Linked DNA regions of Homo sapiens. The protein of the gene in region 2 interacts with the protein of the main gene of each other region in a biochemical or structural test. Each region holds a gene or a part of one and is shown on either strand. Other genes may lie near its edges. The genes, in order: TSPAN8 and PTCH1.

Region 1 (10,507 bases), on a different chromosome or scaffold from region 2:
GAATGAATGGATGAATGATTAAAATTTGTCTCCTCTCAGAGTATCCTCCAGTTTCTAAGCCAAACTAAGCCAAATCTAAGCCATATCAGCTTCCACAATCAAACCTTCTAAAGAGAAGTTGGAGTTAGAGTTTCATCAATCATGGCACGTTCTTTTAACAGACAATAGGGATGGGAGAGAATCCTCTGGAGTCTGAAGGTTGGACACTGGGATTTGTTTGGAGAACTCACCAACAGAAGCATGCAGCGACTTTCTTTTATAGCACCGCAGCATCCCAGGAAGCCCAGAATCATGATGATGGCACCTACAGCAATCAATATGTCCACAGCAACGTAGGAGCTAGAGCCTACATCTTCAGAACCAAAAATCTGAAGTAAAAAAGAGATTAATGGCAGAAAATTTATTTCCTTGAAGTTTATTTTGCTCATTCAACAAATATCCATTGAGTGCCTCCTATGTGTCAAGTCCTGTGCCAGGACCCTGAAATACATCAGTGATCTTAAAAAGTACAAATCCTTGCCCTCATGGAGCTCACATTCTATTGAAGTGCTTATATTTTTCTAAAATGATATGATGAAAGCTGGGTGGAAGAAATGTAATAGGTTTTTTTAAACCGTATTTTTAAAAGCTTAGGACAGTTACTTTTACTCTTCTTGATGTAATCTTTGGTTCACATATTTTGTGTATTCTATATAAAGTGCATTATAAAAGCATGTGTTGTTATGGTTTTTAATTCTTTAAAAAGTTCAAGCTCTTTAAACTATTGATAGACACAACAATATGAATTAATTTCAGAGTCATTATGCTGAGCTAAAGAAGCCATAGAAAAAAGTAAATACTGTATGATTCCATTTCTATAAAGTTCAATCATAAGCAAAACTATGGTTATAAAAATCAAAGCAGTGCTTGACTTTGAGCAAGGCAGAAGGGAAAGCAAGAGTTAACTGAAAAGGGACATGAGGGAACTTCCATGGGTTAATAAAAATGCTTTGTATCCTCATTAAAAAGAAATCCAGTTCCTGATATTTCATATCTATTTTATCTCTTTGTTCCCAAAAGCCATAGTCCATAGAGTCATCTAGAAACTCTATTTTGACTGTTAGTTAATGAGATATGAAGGGAAAAAAAATCCTAGAGCCCTTTATAGTGGGTGGGCTACCCATCAGGCATAATTCAGTTCTCCCAACAACACACACATACTCGTCTTCATCACCCTCATAACACTTAGCCTCAGCCACCTCTTGTCCTCGATAAGTGGATTTATCCAGAAGTAAATCACAATTAAAAAGTAAAGCCTTGTGCGTGTCTTATGCATAAATCCTATATGTAGCCCATTTGCCTTCTATAACCTCTATCTACTGGGCTGTCTCTAGATAGAGCACTAGTTCCTAGACTAACTCGAAACCTCTGCCTCCCAGAATGGGCTATATAGCATGTAGGTCAGCTCCCTTAACAGTCAATACAAAAATGACTGCTATGTTCTAATGATATTTTTGTTTCTCAAGGCTTTTTAAATCTACTTATTGCCTAGAGGAAACTTTTATTCAACAGTCAATAGGAAGGAATGTGCTGAAGTTATAAAAGCATTAAAACAAACATCTATATTTTGTCAGGGTCCTAATAAATAAGTTTGTAATCCTGGAACAGTCACCCAACCTAGTGGGCTCCAGTTTCCCCATTTATAAAAGGGAATTGGGTCAACCTCTGTGATAGCCAAGGCCTCCTTTGTCTCTAAAAGTCTATGCTTACAGATAATGTTTCAATTTACGTATTTTGAAAGCTTGGTTAAGTCCTAAAGATTTTTGTTTGTTGGTTTTTATTGTTTTCTCATTAATATTAGAGCTAAAAAATCAGTTTTGTTAATAAACAGGCAGGACATTGGAATCAAAATAAATGTGACAAAAATAGAAGTGTTAGGAAACTAGCTCTATGGACTTCCTGCTAAATATTGCTTCACTAGAATATTGTGGCCAGTACAGGCAAACCCTATGAGAGGATGGAAGCCTCGCTAGCTGGGTTATCAGAACTTAGAAAAGATATGCCAGACATACAAATAATAGTTCAAATATCTACACATGAGGCCAAGATAGTGTGACCAGCACTTGTGCAGCAGGTAGTGAGACACTTCTATGAGGCTAACCTGGGCAGGGTGACCCACTGCCAGAGACTAGCCAGAAAGCAGTGTGTTGACTGTCTAGTGGTCATTGTTCCAAGTCCAGCCCAACAAGTGGTTATTCTTATTCAAGAATGAAGTGGAAATCTGAGTTCAGATGTTTGCACCAGGGGAGGAACAGCAGGGTTTGAAAAGCTGTCTTGAATGAACACTGTGTCCCTGTGTGTCTTAGGACAAGGGGAGAATTTCTAAAGACAGAGAAATTCAGCTGGTCCTGAAAGATGAGGACTCAGGAATCCTCTTTGGATCAGAAGGGACCTCCTGGGACAAGGATGGCTGCTCATGTGCTTTTCCTCATGGTGCTAAGTTTATCCTGAGGTAGAAAAAAGGGTCTTCATGAGACACTTCAGCAGAAAGTTCTGTCATTTCCCTGACATCCTTCTTTTCTGTGTTTATGCTCATGTTTTTCCTTCCAAAACAGCTACCTCTGTTTTTTCACTAACAAAAAATTCAGCTCTTTGCTCTGTCTTGATTCTTTGTCACTGGCTTGAGAAAAATATAAACCAAGCCAATTTTATATAAGTCAAGCTGGTTAATGTTGTCCTGGCAGACACTGGCTTTTGTTCAGTGTGAGAGGCTGATGAAGCGTGAGTCAAAACGTAACTAAAGATGCTGTCTAGCTCTATTAATTCATTCTTATCCCCAGATGTGGAGGAGCACCCTCTCAAGGACAACAGTTCCCCTTTAATACATTCAATATGTGCAATTTTTTAACAGACTAAACACCAAATTTGTTTACCAGAAGCACTGGGAGGGAAAGAAAATACCAACAGGAAGTAAAATTAAAATAAAATAAATTGCAGGCTACACACACATCTTGAAGAGGCCACAGCACCCTGTAAGTAGGTGACTGTTAATCTCTGTGCTTAATTATGAGTCCCAAAGTCAGACTTCAGATTCTACAGGATGGTAATTCTGCACATCTTCAAATGCACTTCTTGGGCTCACACACCAGAGCTCCAGGCCATCAGGAAGTCACAGTTATGGTTATCAGTAGAAAACAATAAGTGAAATCCTGATGGACTAGGATGTTACTAAAAAGCTGCCACACCCATCTCCCACCCAATTTCTTCACCATGGTGAGGCACAGAATGTGGAAGCCGCTAATTGCCACTGTGATCCTCTGGGCTCCCTAAGGGCAGAAAGCAATTTTAAAAGGAAAAGAACAACAGGAGAGAGAGAGAGGAAAAAAACAAAAAAAAAAAAAACAGAGATAGAGTGAGAAAGAAATTTTCAGAAAAGCCACCCACTGCAGCGAAGAAAACAGAGCAGACATTAATTCCCTTTTCATCTTCCTTTCCACTAGGCTGTGTTCAAAGGCATTTAGCTGCACCATGGTGAAATACGTTTTAGTAGAAAATGCATTGTCTTAATTGCTGGCTTAATAAATCTCTCAGTAATTATCAACTTGGAATCAAAATTCTTCTCAGAGAGGAGAAACTCTCTTTATGTGGGCAAATACCTTAAAAAGGCTCTAGCAGTAGAAGAGGTGATCCTTTAGTGGCAAGAGCCCAGAAAACAAAGAACAAATTAATGGCTCTGAATGTGTTAGAATAATAATTTGTGGGGATGGAGCCCCAGAATAGAAGAAGGGAGAGAAAAGAATAAAAGCACGGGAGCCAGGAAATGGTGCCAGGGTGGTATTATGTTCCGTAAAACTGACAGAACAATCCCCGCACACTCGCCCCTCCCTCTTCCCCCAACCCTTTCCACATTTGTGATACTGTGGCATGGAACAGATACCACACGTATGGGGTCCAATAGCTGGAGCCAGAATTAACCATACGAAATACACTTCCTCCAGACCTGTAGATCTGGGTAAGAGCTTTGGCACTGGGCACGGAATGGTGTGTGGGGGAGGAAAATGGGTCATGTTCATCTTATACATATAGCAATAATCTGGACATCCCCAGAGAATTACTGAGTTTCACCAAGTTAGATTAGCCACTACTGGCAAGTGGTTACCTTCACTGCCAGTTGCCACAGGTAAATAACAAGTACCCTTGTACCTTGTTGCCTTTAAAATACAGATTCAAATTATTCTTCTCCAAGAAAACTTCTCATTTTCTTTCCTTTTGGACCAACCACATTGGGATCAACTAAATTATTGTCAAAACCTTCTACTATAAAAATTATTCTTCTTGGTGAGAAGGAGAGGTGGCCTATATCCTCAATATAGGCCTTAAACAAATAGTAAAGGAGGAAAATTTCCACTTTGGCCCCTTCCCACCTGCATCTCACTGAATTTTTTTGAATTTTTGAATAACACCTCCTCCATTCTCTAGAAAGATTTTTCCACATCTAGCACAGTGCCAGCCACATAGTAATTTTAATTGATTGAACTGAATTATAAAATCACATAACAGCACAAGTGATTACATGAAGCAGTTAAGAAAAATGTTTTAGACATGTTTATTACTATTATTGTTATAACTTTCATTATTATAAATGAAATAAACTACATTGGGGAAAGGGTGACTTGTTTTTGCATACTTACTGCTTGAGAGTCATTGCTTACTCGTACCCATATTGCTAATGCTAGGATCAAGATACCACATAGCTGCAGAAAAAAACAAACAAACAAAAAGAATACAATTAGGATCATATGAAACTCTATTTCCACACCCTCCTATCTATCCGGTGACAGTAGTTCATCATCGACTATACTATCACAACCTGGAAGACATAAATGAGGCATATTCATATACAGATCATTGTTGAAATGTTAAATTGCAATGTGTAAGTTTGATGAGAATAATTCTATTTCTCATCCACAACTCACTCACAGCTCTATGGACAAGAAGTTATTTCCATTAGGCCTGGAAAGATTATTTTTCCATGTAACTCTAGCCCTGTGTTTCTGCTAGATTTTAGCATACAAAAGAAAAGTCACAACAGTTTAAAGATAAAATATCCTTATCATGCCTCTGGGCTTGTTTGTGAGAAGCTATGTTGGACCAGGAAAAAAGGGAATGACGGAATAGTCACCATTCATTTAAGATTCGACAGGAAGGGAGATGTTGGGATAGAGGGGGAAAAAGTAAAACATACGACAAGATGTGCAGTTAAGCAACAAGGCTATATAATAATCAACACTTTTTGAACCCAAATAAACTCTCTTAAAAACAAGCTCTTTTAGGTGGTAAAGTTTACTCACAGAGAAGGAACAATGAAAGACAGAACTTGAAGTCTTAAATTCCTTTAATGATTTTACCAGATTATTTAATTTGGACCAATGCCAACACAATAAAATGTAAAACACATTTTACTTTAGTGTAAGGAAAACTCTTGTCATTCAGGGTTTAAAAAAAAAAGTTATGCATTGTGGCTTCAAAAACAAAAATCAAAGATCTATTATTAGATAGAGATGTTAAGAGCTGTGTCTGGTAACATACCAGACACAGCAGGCCTTGGGGGACTTAGTAGACAATTCTGACCTTGCTGTGCTCTGACAGACAAATGTCCTTGGAGCATCATTGCTTTCGTGCATGGTTGAGACATACGCCTAGAACCCCAAGACAGCACTTTTAATGGCTTCTCATTGAGTTTGCAGGGGAAATAGAGTCAAGGGCTCTGTTAAGGAATAGGAAGCACAATGAGTAGTTGAGTAACCATAGACTCTGTGCTCCCTAAAAGACCTTGAAAATCATCTAGGTCTAAACCTCTCATTTTGAATGGAGAAATTGGAATCCTGGGCGCTAATTATTACATCATGAAAACCCGGAGCAATTCCTAACCAATCTGCCCTTACAACATACTTCAGCTCCTACAAAATAACTAATGCAATTAAAAACCAAAGCTCTTTAACCACCAAATAACCTATGCAATTATCTCATACACACACATAGACACACACACACCATAAAATACAAATGATTAAAAAACACAGCTTTCGTGTTTGAAAACTTTCCTTACTTCTCTAACCCTGAGATTTATAGCATCCTTTCACAAAATTCTAATTTCATTTGCAAACAAAGACAAATGCTCATTTTAGCAGTCCTTTGTTAAACAGTTTGTGAGTGATAATTTATGTCAAATGATAATGAGACCCTCTGGGATTTTCAGTAATTTCATACCAACTGAATTTTTTGTTTGTTGTTTAGTTTGTTCACTGATTATCTTCTTTCGTTTTCTTCTCTTTTCACAAGCAGATTCATAATGATTGGCTTAATAGTCATTCTGGCCTTCATCTGTAACTAATGAACCTTGTAGCTATTATGAGTAGCATTCTTTCCTGATATTTGTTAAACTATCAACGAAAAAACTTTAAGAATTCTTAGTAAGAGCTTAGTAAGAACTCAGTGTGATATTTTTTAAAACTTTTTTTGTTCGTGTATCACTATTCACTTTTTCAAGGTATTTAGATATCAGATCATTCATAAATCTTATTAAATCAATCATATCTGCCCCTCAGATAGCAACTTTTAGTCTTCTCAGCCACTGAAAATTTTCTGTAACATTAACATTTAAAAGAAAGAGTAACCAGTTGTTTCAGAAGTCAAAAATATTTTGCCCAACTAATCTTCAGAATTAGACAATCTTTCTCAGGAACTTTGAAGTTGGCCAAAGTATCATTTCCACCCCTAACTCTTATCTTTTCTTCAAACTTCATTTTAAAAATGAAACAAATGTTTAGAGTATATCATTCTCATTTGAGTGGAGAAATTCCCATGTAAATATCAGTCTAATATCATGAAATTATTCGTAACTTTGTTGAATGACTTTGAAAGTCAATTTATTTTCTATCAAGAATGACCATCCTAGAGTCATGAATAATACTAAACTATTTCATCCCATTGTTAAAAGATTGACCATCATAATGGTACTTGGAGCCCTTTACCAAGTTTAGCTTTTAGAGCTTTTCCCCTAATGTTTTTATACTATTTTAAACAATTAAAAGTATAAATTAATAAATAAATGCCTGCTCTCTACTTTCGTTAATAACATTGTAAAAGTAAAATGGGTTAGTATGGTGGTTCCAGGACCCTGTGGAACTGACTAGGCCTACCTTTCCCCTGCTTCTGGTCTCTCTTTGAGAATTGTTCTGGTTTTCATTCAGCTTTCATGGAACAGCCATCATTTTATGGAATTTGGATGCAATTGGTCTGGACCAGCATCCTAAGAAATTAGGCAATTTTGATATTTGCTTATAATGGACTGAATTGTGTCTCCACAAAATTCATATGTTGAAGCCCTAACCTCCAATGTATCTGTTTTTGATGATAGGCTTTTAGAAGATAATTAAGATTAAATGAGGTCATGAAGATGGGGTTATAATCTGATAGAACTGGTGACCTTATAGGAGATAAATCTTTCTTTCTCTACTCATACCCAGGGAAAGGACATGTGAGAACATGAGAAGATGGCCACAGAAAGAGGGTCCTCACCGGAAACTCAGTTGGCTGGCACCTTAATCTTAGCCTTCCTAGCCTCCAGAACTATAAGAAAATTAATTTCTGTTGTTTAAGCCACCCAGTCTACAGTATCTTGTTATGAGAGCCCAAGCAGATGACTAAGAACAGGCAGATGCTGAAGACCATAAAATATCAGGAAAAAAAAGGGGGCGGGGGAAGATACCATCCAGAAGAAAGATAAATGGTAGAATGTTGATTTGTCCTTTTCTTTGATAATGTGTCTCCAATCATCCCTACTTCTTCCCTCCAAATTGTACCCTTTTATTTGGTGTTTATTGAAGTATGTTTGGAGAATGCTGAAAATGCTGTGTTAGGAGGAGGAGTGGATTTTGAACTACATCATTATTGGTCCCAAAATGGACACCTTTTAGGTAAGCTTAAGAAACTCTTCTTGTGCTGCTCCTGAGAGGATAAAAAAGAATAAGAAAATATGCAAGTGGATAACTACAAGATTTGTTTTTATGATAAACACAGAACACTAGAGGCGACTCCATGATTATAGGGAACAAGGATTCCGAAAGCCCTAACATACTAGGACTGTACTGCTGCTGCTACTGTTATTGTTCATTTTCAAGTTTCTTTTACTAAACATTTATTTAAAAGTCTTAGTTCAATTGTATTGTGGTAAGAGAATGCAGACTGTAGGATTGTTACTTGTGAGTTTTTTTGCATTTCCTTCATCAATTTCTAAAGATTCAGAGATACTAGAAAAGACAACAAAGTCTCAAGAGGGTACAAAGTTTATTAGAAATTTAGTAAATATACTTTATTCATTAAATCATTTAGATCCCCTGTATCCATGTTTTTTCTTTTCCTTCCTGAGTTATCAAAAACTGAGAGGCAGGTTAAGTTGTGTTAAGCTGAATTAATGGAGTTTGCATTTACTATTCTGTATCTCTAACAGTGTTCCCTCCATATAATCCAATAAATGCTATTTAGTGTAATCAGTCTTGGGCTTTAGCGCAGAGTAAATGTTACTAAATTGCTATTTTCTATTACATCTCTTTCCAAATATCCTTCCAATCTACATTTGAGATAATAAAAAATATAACTATTTAGACATGTGACTTCTTTATTTCCAGACCTAAAATGGTTAGCCATTTAACCATGATTTTCCCATGCTTCAATTATCCATTTTTACTTATACCTTAATCATTTTGGATATGTTTCAGTAAATTTTACAGTGTGAATACCTGAAGATCTCTTTCTCTCTTATTCATTTGTGAAAGGCTCTGAATACTCAGCAGACATTGTTTCATTGTCTTCTGACTTTCAGGGTTACAATAGGAGAAGAATATCACCAGCCTTATTTTCGTTCATGCATTATTTGCTTGTTTTCTTTTTTGTCAGTTGTATCTAGACATTTGTAAGATGTTTATTTATCTTTTAACTAAGTTAGTAGTTTTCTTAACATTTATTTAGGCATAGATGTCTTCTTTCACTGGGGTAGATCAGGCACTTGCCATCTGCATACAGGTATGTTTTCAGCTCCACAAAATTTCCATATATTAATTTGATTATTATTTGTGTTCCATTTATTTTGTCCTCTTTTTCAGGAGTACAGCTTATTTTGGGTTTCCATTCTCTGTTGTCTGTATCTATTATCTTCTTTCACAATATTCTGATTTCTTATTTGATTTTCCTGTGGGAAAGCTTATCAGTTTGGGATTCTATGTCACTGTCTTTATTTAATGTGATCTCTACAGTGAAGTTTAATTCTGCTATTATGTTTGTAGTTTACTTGCAGTCCTTACATATTTTATCCATTTCCCTTTTTATCTCATCCCGTTGTTTTCCAATAAATTTTATTTTCTCTTATGGCCTCCATTCACTGTTTCATGAGAGGTTACTTTCTAGCATCACATTGTGGATACCAATTTCTACATACATTTTTTCAGGATTCTAGAATATTTATTTCAGGGATGTGTGCTTGTCCTCTAAGTCTTCAGGGTGGCAATATCTTTCACTTGTTCAACAGTATTTTTTATTAGGTCTTATGCTAAATTTCCTTGAAAAAGATGAGACCAATTCTGATTTAGAGTTCATTCAGAGTAGAATGTGCTGAGGCAGGTGGATCACCTAAGGTCAGGAGTTCAAGACCAGTTTGGCCAACATGGTGAAACCTTGTCTCTACTAAAAATACCAAAAAAATTAGCCGAGTGTGGTGGCACGTGCCTGTAATCCCAGCTACTCAGGAGGCTGAGGCAGGAGAATTGCTTGAACCCGGCAGGTGGAGGTTGCAGTGAGCTAAGATCACGCCATTGCACTCCAGCCTGGGCAACAAGAGCAAAACTCTTGTCTCAAAAAAAAAAAAAAAAAGAGTAGAATGTGCATTCCCTTTACAAGCATGGCCTGATGTAGTTCTGATCTACTAAGCCTCATGCGATATTGGATTTTCTGATGCTGTAAACCAGCAGAGTAAATTAAAATCTTCAACTTTTAGCAGACTCTGCAATCATGGTTTTTAAAAAATCTTCAGCCCCATATTGTTGCAGGAAGTCAGGGACCCCAAACAGAGGGACTGGCTGGAGCCGCGGCAGCGGAACATAAATTGTGAAGATTTCATGGACATTTATCACTTCCTAAATAATACTCTTATAATTTCTTACACCTGTCTTACTTTAATCTCTTAATCCTGTTATCTTCGTAAGCTGAGGATGTACGTCACCTCAGGACCCTGTGATAATTGTGTTAACTGTATAAATTGATTGTAAAACATGTGCGTTTGAACAATATGAAATCAGTGCACCTTGCAAAAGAACAAAATAACAGTGATTTTAGGGAACAAGGGAAGACAACCATAAGGTCTGACTGCCTGTGGGGTCGAGCAAAAAGAGCCATATTTTTCTTCTTGCAGAGAGCCTATAAACGGACATGCAAGTAGGGAAGATATTGCTAAATTCTTTTCCTAGAAAGGAAT
Region 2 (10,507 bases):
TCATCCTTCCTGAGGCCCAGCGTGTTCCTGACACGCCAGAATATCCCTTCCAGATCCTTATGGTGGCAGTCGTTGGAATTTCCTGGCAGGGAACCCTTGCAGAAAATGGTACCTGACATGCCCTCCGTCACGACAGTGCAAAGGATGAAACAGATTCATGTTCAAGGCATGTTCTCATTATGCGCAGCCTTCATTAAAAGTAATTAAAACTTGGCAAATACTCATCTCGGATGATTAATAGACCATCTCCACTTCTCCTTTTGGGAGGTCGGTTACCAGTTATCAAAAATGAAACACCTGCCTTTACATCAACGTGCTGCTGCCGAAACGTAGCAGGACGCAGCTTTCACAAAGCTGTTACATACATCTGTTGTGCCAAAAAAAAAATGGAGCTCTGTGTTGACCTAAGTCCTGAATAAATATGGTGGATTTGGGGACACAAATCTGATTAAAAACTTCTCCCTAGGCCAACATGGTTAAAAACTAAGTTAGCTAGTTAGCTATGTGTCATTTATAAGGAATATAAAATTGGATGGTAGCAAATGGTCATTTTGGTGGTATTAAACGTGTCTTGGGGAAAGCATGTCCCAATCTGAATTCCAATTAATGCAATTACTATTTCCCGTACTCAGATTCAGGGAGAACATATTCTCTGTGGCTTAAATGAGCCAAATTAGCTGTTATGTGTAGTATTAAGGAGGACAGTGTATTACCTGAACATCTTATTCCTTGGTCAGAATTTACTGTGCTACCTCAAATGCCTCCCAAGAGGGGCTCAGTAAACATGAACTATTCCCATAGCAGCGCCCATTGTTTCTATGGGGAGCCCTTGTCATCTTCAAGATGGGAACCCTGAGGCAGAGCTGGTGATTGAACTGGGGTTTGGAGTGGGGTCCTCAGGATGGGGCTGTCCAATTCTCACTCAGACGACTCCGGCCAGCCCCTGAGATCCAGACCTCGTCACCAGCATCACTGCTGCCACCCTTCAGAAGTTTTCAAGGGATATTTATCTCTTTAATTTACAGATGAGGACACACAGGCTCTGGGGTTTTAAGAGACTTGCCCAAGCCAGTCAAGTGGGTGACAGGGAGCCCTCTCCGTGGAAGGGCCCGGCGTGGCTCCCCCTCCCCTCTAGGAAAGGGGCCCACACTCTCCTTCCAGGTCCTCCCTCACTGTGGGGTGAGCACTAAGAAGGGAGTTCCTCACTCTGGACTCCCAGACGTAACAGTCAAGCTCCTGGCCTGGGCTCACCCACAGAGGAGCATGTGTTTTGTGAAAGGACCACACAGTGGAGTCGGTATCTCTGTGCCATTTCCAGATCCGGCCCGCACTGGCCCAGGAGCCGAAGCCAAATGATAGAACCTGGCCACACTCAGCTGGAATTTCGGGATCGCCTCCGCTGGTGCATCACAACCACCAGGACAGATCGTTAAAGCAGATTCCTGGACCTCACTCCAAGATTCTGAGTTAGGTGGTGTTGGATTCGGTTTTTCTAGCAAGCTTCCAAGGCAGGCTGATTCGTGGACCACACTTGACTAGCACTGGCCTATGTTACCTTGTCTAGAGATGGATTGGCAGGTGTCTTACGGCCAGATAGTAAATATCATAGTCTCTGCAGACCATAGTCTGTGTTGCAGCTACTGAACTCTGCCGTTGCAGCAGAAAAACAGCCATCAACAACATGTGCGGCAACAGGCACGACTCTCTCCTCATGAACCTGTGCAACAGGACATGGCCAGCCGGCTGTGGCTCACTGACCCCTCTGCAACTTGCCCATGTGCACAGCAGTGTGGGCCTTGAGTTCAGCCCCACCACTCCTTGCTTACACAGCTGTAACATGGACATGATATTCCTGGCCATATTTTTCTCCATGCCTATGATGAAATCATTGCTTACCAGGAAACACTCAAAAACTGTTCTGTATCAGGTTCAATCAATTCCATATTATCTTTGACACTGTTTAGAAGTATGACACCTTCACTGATGATAATCATCTTTGAATTTGGCTTTATTTATGTTCCCTCATTATTAGGCATCACATAAGGGAAATAAGTATGCTAAGAGAGATGACAGAAGGACTAATTTTGATGGTTAACTTAGGAAGTTTCTTGGTATGAGAAAACAAAAATAGGGTCAGGTGATAAGAAATTAATTAATGGGTACAATGTACACTATTTGGGTGATGATCACACTAAAAGCTCAGCCCCCACTTTGTAATACATCCATGTAACAGAGCTATGCTTATACCCACTATTTATACAAAACAAAAAGGAGGAAAACCTAAAACTCTCTCCATCAGATAGAGCAAAAAAGAAGAGTGTCACAAGGTCAGCAAGATGAAACAACAGTTTCTGATGGCTCCAACACTAACTGTCTCTCCCAAGTATTTTAAAGAAAAAAAGCATTCTACAAACAAAGATATAACCAACAAGTTATATTATTTTTTATTCATGTTAGAATTTCTATCAGTGTTTGAACATTAATTATTTAGAGAGTTTGTACATTTTCACCTTCCAAGGTTTGAAATGAGAAGCATGCTAGGTCGCCAATGGTAACTAATAAACACTTCATAATCGCATGAATATCCACTCTGCTCTGACTCTCTTAACACTGTTAAACATTTTCTTTCCTTGCTGTAATTTACAATGAAAACTGTGCCCACTCATGTCTCAGCAAAGTTCCAGACATTATGGATTCATCACATATAAATTCTTTAAAAATATACTTCTGTCAAAAGACTTGATGACTACTATGTACACTACAAAAATAAATCTTCATATAAATAAATTATATGGCATACTTTTATCTTTGTAATTGAAATGACACAAACTCATTTCCACCAAAATTGGCAATGAGACCCAGTTTGAATATTTATTTCCTTTAAACTCCTTACCCTAAAACCTACCATGAGTCCTTAATGTAAATGTTATATACTCTGAACTATTTAACATTAGTAAGCACTCTATACAAATAAAAATTCTGTCCAAAAGTAAAACATAGCTGTAATGTTTCCAATAGAAATAAAATCCCTGCATTTTTTTTTGTTATAAACTGGCATGACAAATACTGTAGAGGAAAACATTCTTATGATACAAAATTATAAATATCAGCAAAGTTTTTTTTTTTTTAAAAATTAAAACATCCAAATGAACAAACAGGACAGACAAAATAAAACTATTAAAAGAGAGAGAGAAATTCTAATTCCCTGCCAGCCCCACCCCCCGCCCACCCCAGTTCTCCCTTTGCCAATGTGACTATTGGAGAAAGTTCTACACCATGCAGAAATCAGGGGCCGCGCAGCCTCCGGCGCAACACGAGCTGGGCTCAGGAAGGGAGCGAGGGCACGCCAGGAGCCAGAGGGAAGTCGACTTCAGAATTCTGCATCATCCCTCCTCCACGCAGGACGTTTTCTGAGCAGAGCTGGGTGTTAGGATGGCAGACCATGTGGGTGACAGGCACCAAGACAGCAGCAGGGGGGTGGCCAGGGTCCCCAGCAGAGACACACACACACGCACGCACGCACACACACACACACACACCCAGCAGCCACAAGCGGCTCCCAATCAGCATCTTAAAAGTTTTGTGGTGAGTATCAGGGTCTGAGGTCACTATGCTGTGGGTATTTCTGGGGGCCCATTACCTTTCTGTTAAGATTTCCCAGGTAATTTAAAAGGGAGTAACAGGAGCTGCCACTCGTGAGCGCCTCACAGTAGCTTAGGCTTCAGCCCTGCAGGGACCCCGCCCTTTCCTCTGACTTCTTGTCTGTAACAAGGTGCTGGTGTGGATTTGGATGGGGAGCCGACACTGGGTGCTTCCCTGACATGTGCTGGTCTCTGGTTACGAGATGAGGGAGCCCACACCTCAGAGCAAAAGAAGAGAACCAGTACAGAAGCAACTTTTAAAAATATGCCTGGTTGAGAGACCTGCCCCTGCCTACATCTTTCAGTGGGGTGTGTCCATCCTCCTGCTTTCCCACATCACATTGAAAGAGCACTAATGACGGGGAGGATGGAGACAATGTTTGGATTTACTTAGGAAGCACGTACCCTAAACACTGGTGCATGAAGAATCCCCCCGGAGCTCTTATCCTACATAATGCCTGCCTCTACACCACAATGCATGCTCACCACTTAGTTTTAAAGAAGATGCAAACAGATCTAGAAAGCCTCAACCAGCTGCTCCATTTAAGAGAGGGAGTTTAAACTATAGGGACTCAAAACATCATTTCTGGGAGACTGTGGGCCAAGAAAGAATTAACTAAATAGGTTTTTCTACCTGTGACAGGGCCACATCCACTCTTGAATTTGGGGGTGTTGGGGGAGGGGTCGTGTGTGTGTTGGTCAGAAGAGGGGCACCATGCTGCATGCTTTTTAGAGTATACAGACTCTCATGGCCCAGCCAAGGCTCAGCACTAGGCATGTCACCGAATTCTCTAACACCCACCATGATGAACTGATGTGAGCTCCATACCCTGAGGTTCCAGCATCCATCACAATGATCCGAGAGAAGGAGATTATCCCCCTGAAGCACAAATTGGGGTCCTGGATGGCAGCCAATGATCATAAGAGATGCCGTAGACACGAGGAGAGTCTAGCTTTTGCCGGGCTGATTTGAAAGGATTAGGTGGATGTTTAGGGCCAGCCCTCACCAGCACGAAGAAAAGATATCCTGACGCTTCCAGCCTGACTAGGTCAGAGCCTACTACAGGTTACAGACAGTGTAGAGAAACAAAACAAGACAAAAAAAAAATCACAGTACAGTACATGGTGAACTCACACACGTGTTCACACGCACAGCCAAACAAGAGGACCGCACACAACGACACCTAGAGAAGCCACCAGGATTAACGTGCTTTCTTCATATCTGCTCATTAAACAAAAAAATTATCACGCATAGCGTGTTTGAAAGTTAACAGTAACATTTCATACTACCACAGGGTTGTGATATGCAAATTTAAAATATTTTAAACAGAAACCTTTACAAAATAATCCTATTACATAAGCAATATTTGCATAGAATTATACAAGTAAATTATACAATATTTAAGCAGCAGCAACATATGCTGAAATTTAAGACTAATGAAGCTTGGTTGTGGCACGGAGCCCAATGCACAAATACGGAGAGGCCCCACTGTGGCCTCCACACTCTGGGGCAGGAGTGGAGAAGCCCCAGATCATACCACTTTACATCCTTCCTTCCTATATTACACATGTGTACATCTCTTAAATATTTATAGAAATATTTAACAAAATAATACAATCGGTTACAGTAACAATGAACTGCTGTCCTGGCACAGGGCATCTTTTCCATAACTCCAACCAGTTCTCTTCAAGCAGTTCTGGAAAGAGGTGGGGGTGGGGGGTTTCCAATCTTTGGCCTCTTTGCTTCAGATTTTAATCACCCTTTAAAAGGAAGCAAAAAAGGAAGTTGAACAGAGTAAGAGGTGTGCAAGTCCGTATTTATAAAGTACAAAAGCAGGCAGCAGTAACCTTGGTATTAGAAATCACGAGAGTGGGGTGTGGGCCTGAGGTGTCCCTGGGGGCTGCTTGTGACCTCTCCCTTCATCTGGGGGCTGGTTACACGGATGCGTTCCCATGTGACCAATTCGCTGTGGCATGCACCTCCATAAAGACTGGCAAATATTGGTAAAAGGTGGTGCTGTTTGTGTCCTTGTGGCGCTGCACCGACCCTCCGCAGGTTAGCAGTGGGGGAAGAGAGCAGTGTGGAGCTGGACTGGTTCCCCAAGGATGACAAAGCTTGGACACATCAGCCTTGCTCTGGGGATAAAAGGTCACTGGGGTCCAGCGTGGGATGTGCCCGAGCGCCACAGCCCCTCGGGGATGCCGAGAACCCCAGGAGAACCTTGTCCTCCTCTTTGCCTGGCTCTAGGTCCCTTGGCTGCCCTTGTCAGTGGCACTCACCTCAGTTGGAGCTGCTTCCCCGGGGCCTCTCCTCGCATTCCACGTCCTGCAGCTCAATGACTTCCACCTTCGAATCCCTCCTCTCACACCGGACGTGGAAAGGCACGTGGGGGTCCTCAAACAGGCCGTGGTCAGTCTCAGGGTAGCCTGGGCAGAGTCCCCCTCGGGGGTTCCGCCCAGGCCCAGGGACAGGCGGCGGGTGCACGGCGACAGTCACGGAGGCAGAAGCCGTCACAGTGGTGATGGGCTGGCAGTAGCCGGGCACGGAGCTGCCCATGGCAGTGGACGCTGGGTTCCGAGGGTTGTGAGAACGGGCCCCGCGAGGGCCCCAGCGGGCCCTATTGCTAGGGCCAGAATGCCCTTCAGTAGAAATTTCAAAAGCGTCTCTGCGCGGTCTGTAGGGGGGTGGCCACAAGCCTTCTCTGGGGGGGTCCCTGCGGGGCTGCTGGCCTTGCCGTCCGGGAGGCAGGGACCCTGAGTCCAGGTGGGGCTGCTGTCTCGGGTTCGAGGGTGGGTGATGCCTGGATTCGGGATGGACCACCTGCAGAGGGTGAGGGTGGGTTAGAAGGGTGGTATCCCAGGCTGGGCATGGTCCCCGCAGCTCCCACACTTCCCTCCTTGGGTTTCACCAAAGACTCAGTCAACCCTGGGGAGCCAATGGGGGCCTTCCACCCACAAAAGAAAAGCCTGTCCTTCTAATAACCTCCAGGACCTGGCGGAGGAGCGTGTTGTTTGAAAATCCTGTTTCCAGGCTTTCTCTGACACGGCTGGCTGGACACGTACTGCTGCTGCCCATAAATGTGGGCTGTGGTCAGAGCATCCAAGCTGCTGCCCCCCACAACCTGCCCCCGACCCTGTTAGGTTCTGCAGGCTCTGAGCTGCCCCTCTCCCGAAGTTGCTAAGTGTGCGGCCCTGGCTGGCCTGAGTGCAGGACGCTGGCAGGACTGTCTCTGCCTACTCTGTCAAACACAGTAGCCGCTCCAGACATGTGGTTGCTTAAGTTTTAATGAACTAAAATCCAAAATCCAGCTCCTCGGTAGCCCCGGCCACATTTCAAGTGCTCCACAGCCACGTGTGGCCGGTGGCTCCCATCCTGGAAAGCAGAGAGGGCATTTTCGTCACTGCGGAGGGCTGTGGCGGGCAGCCTGTTCCATCTGATTGTTAAGAATCTGGTCTCTGCGTCTCTATACAAAGCACAGAGCAACACAGTGGCCACATCAATCAAAAGGACCGTGACCAACTTCAAAGTCGTTCAGCTTGTACCTATTTTTAGGCTCCTGCTGAACAAAACCAGATTCACACTGCAGCTCAGCGGGCGTCGTCGCGGGGGGTAGGAGGAGGACAATTCAGGTTATTTGGTTGGCCTTTCTCTCTTTCACGGAAGGGCTGCTCTGGCCTGGGACTGGAATACCCATTTCCTGGAGGGACAGCAGGGGGCCCTCAGTGGAGCAACATCAGCCCAGAACCTTCCTTGAGTTTTCAGGGCTGAGCCCATCCCAGGGAGCACAGGGTGGAGGAAAGGACCCAGGTCCTTGGAGCCTCCGAGGAGGGGCTCCCAGGCTCCTGGTGACCTCCTGAATCACTGAAGGCTAAGAACTCAGGGGTGGTTCTTGGCCTCTCTGCTCTTTCCTGCCACCTGGAACATGAGCTTGGAGCCCCAAAAGCTATGGTAAAGTATTTAGACAATAATAATGAATGTTGTATCAAGGGCATTGAAACCTAACAGAAATGAGAGAAGGAAAAAACCTGACCTCTGTTGGCAATAAAAATACTACTAGTTTTAGAAAATATCACTCTCAAATGACATGCACCTTAAGAGGAAAAAAAAAAAAAAGGCAGGAATGCTTTATCTCTGGCCTTTGAAGCCCAAACTGTCCTCACCCTGAACAAGATAGATGCTACTGCTTTGTGCAGTGACATTACTGGCCCCTGCCCTTTTTATCCTTTATGAGATCAAACCACAGGAAGATGGCATTTGTATAGTTGAGAAAGAGTTAAATACTGGTTATTTCCTATGATTTGACCTAGTCTGTACCTTATCTCTGCATCCCATCTGCCTGTGTGATGTGCTGCTCAGCAGACAGGAGCCCCCGCTGGACCTCCAGGCCCACTACCACGGTGGGAAGACCCCTCCCCCTGGTTCTGCAGAGTCACTTACAGTGGAGTGGGCGAAGACGGGGTTTTCTGTGGCTTCCACGATCACTTGGTGGGCAGGGCCTCCCGCGCCCTGCTGGGCCTCGTAGTGCCGAAGCTCCTCGCTGAGGCCTGACACTGTCGTCTGGGAACTATACTCCGAGTCGGAGGAATCAGACCCGCTGTGCGTGTGGCCGGGCGGCATGGCGAAGCGGACCACGCTGGGGGGTGGCTCAGGGGAGGGTGTGGGCAGGCGGTTCAAGCCGTTGGCTGGAGACACCTATTTAAGGGGATTCCATGTTAAAAGTGTTCTTGTCCATTTACCTGCTGGCCACACTCAAAGCTCAAAGCACGGTATTTTTCAGGGGCCTCTGTTCCCTGCCCTGGGGCCCTGCGCACTGTGCCGTATTAACCTCCCCTTCTCTACCACCTGGAGGACCTTCAGGTCCCGCAGCTGGAGCAGAAGAACTGTCCTCTGCTCCACACTGGAAAGGCAGGATGTGTACTTTTTACTCTTGTGAAGTCCAATTATGCATCTCAAGGGGAAAGTCTTCATTTACTGTATAAAGATCTGTAAGACCCAGGCTGCCAATCAGTTGATTTAGAGGAACCAAACCGAACCCGCCCTCTAGCCCTCAAAGCCAGTACACCGAAGAGGAAAACAGACATGACTCTGAGATGTTTACTGAAGAACCACCAGCAAGTGGGGAGGCACCTAAGTATCGAAGTGAAGAGCGGCACAGGAAACACAGCATTCAGCCGGCCTACACGTGGGACATCCCCGTGTCACTACTGACCTCAGGATATGGTCCAAAGAAAGACAAAAGCACGGGAAGCAAAACCAGCCCATTGAGAACGCCGAGGATGGTGAGGATCGCCAGCACAGCAAAGAAATACCTGGGAGATCAAGAGGAAACGGGAACACGCGCTGTGACAGGGTGGATCGCGCCACCCTCCGTGTGCCCGACACAGCAGCATGGCAACGCCAGAAATGAACAAAACCCACCCCACTGAAAAGGCTGTTATCCAACCGCAGTTCACATTCAACACAAGGTGAGTTTTTGCTTTTTGTTTCTTTACCTTATGACTTTGAGGACTACATTCCACAACCCAAAGTGTTAGTTCATGAAGGGAAGAAAAAAAAAATTAGTTTGTTAATTTGCTGAACTCTGATGGCATGTAATGTTATTTATGAATGTGTTACACAAACACAAAAATATGGAATGCGACCTGAATGGCTGGGCAGACTGAAAGCACAAACACAATGCCGAGGGGCCCCGCTCGTGAAAACCCAGCAGAAGCAAACAAATGAAGTGAAGGGTGTAGAATTTAAACAATTTAGCCCAGGAGGAAAAGCAGCCCACTTCTGCAGGCTGCTAATCCACTGTGAAATGCTTCTGCATCTTACGGCAGAATCTCTAATTAAGTCTCTAGCATATCAGGTAAGGCTTTCCCTGGCCTTTCATTAATCACAACTTTCTGCCTAGAATTCTGTGAGTTCCAGTTTTACCAAATAGCTCCAATTGCAACCTTTTTAGAACACAGGAACCAGCTTTCTGCAAAGAAAATGCTGCCCATTCTGTGGGAGCTGGGGCATTGTGCTGGGTGAGGGCACTCCACAATGGCGGGGCTGCTCTGCGGGCCAATCTTTTGTTGAACAATTTAGCATCTCTGAATACTCTTGTTTTGCGTCAGCCAATTCAAACATAAAGGCCGCAGCACCATGGCAGAGGAGGAGAGTGCAGAAGTAGTTCTGCTTTCCCACCATTGAGGGCTAAGGTCTGGAATCCTTCATGAATACCAAGGTAAACCTGTCAGCCAGGGACAGCCTCTGGCAGACACTCTGCATGGCTGGAGGGCACAGACTCCACGCAGGGATGCGTTTCTGGAACTAATGATTTCTAGGGCAACTCTGATGGAAGTGGGCTGGGGTAGGGGAGAGGCTCAGGATGTTCTGGGAAGGGGGGGGCAAGATATCTATCTGTTAATGGTCCTCTGGTTCATAAAATGGAACAGGCAACCAGTGCTGCCATGTCTATATATGTTTTGACATCAGATGAAAGGAGAGAGAATCCCCATAAAAATACAAATACCTCACAGCTATTGTAAACACTAGAAACTTCTGAACTACATTAGTAAAAACCAAGCAGCCAATGTCTTGGTCTAATGTAAACTGCTGGAACTTTCGGCTGGGGCATGTATCAGCAGCCACATTAAGACATTTGCATCCCATCCATCTAGCTGAAGCATAAACAGGCCAATTAGATTTCTGACGGCTTAGCATATACAGTGTCTGCTCATTTATTTGACCTTGGTGAGGCCTTTATCAGGTTAATCCATCCCATCCTAGAAAATGGGAAGCCCTTTTAAGTGCTTGAAAGAGGAACCCTGATATTTCTGGGCGGGAACAACCCCGGCTGAGAGGAGAGCGCTGGGATTCCAGCTGCCAGGTT

What was found.
Region 1: the proteins of PTCH1 (region 2) and TSPAN8 form a complex in vitro, tested with the Homo sapiens proteins (one study listed by BioGRID).

Annotation. Positions count from the first base shown.
Region 1 is NC_000012.12:71,139,481-71,149,987, forward strand, and holds part of TSPAN8 (tetraspanin-8), read right to left. Parts: intron 4,734-10,507; coding exon 4,671-4,733; intron 369-4,670; coding exon 231-368; intron 1-230. UniProt on the Homo sapiens protein: Structural component of specialized membrane microdomains known as tetraspanin-enriched microdomains (TERMs), which act as platforms for receptor clustering and signaling.
Region 2 is NC_000009.12:95,440,990-95,451,496, forward strand, and holds the end of PTCH1 (protein patched homolog 1), read right to left. Parts: intron 8,952-10,507; coding exon 8,852-8,951; intron 8,335-8,851; coding exon 8,080-8,334; intron 6,463-8,079; coding exon 5,923-6,462; 3' UTR 5,922-5,922; intron 5,403-5,921; 3' UTR 1,991-5,402; downstream 1-1,990.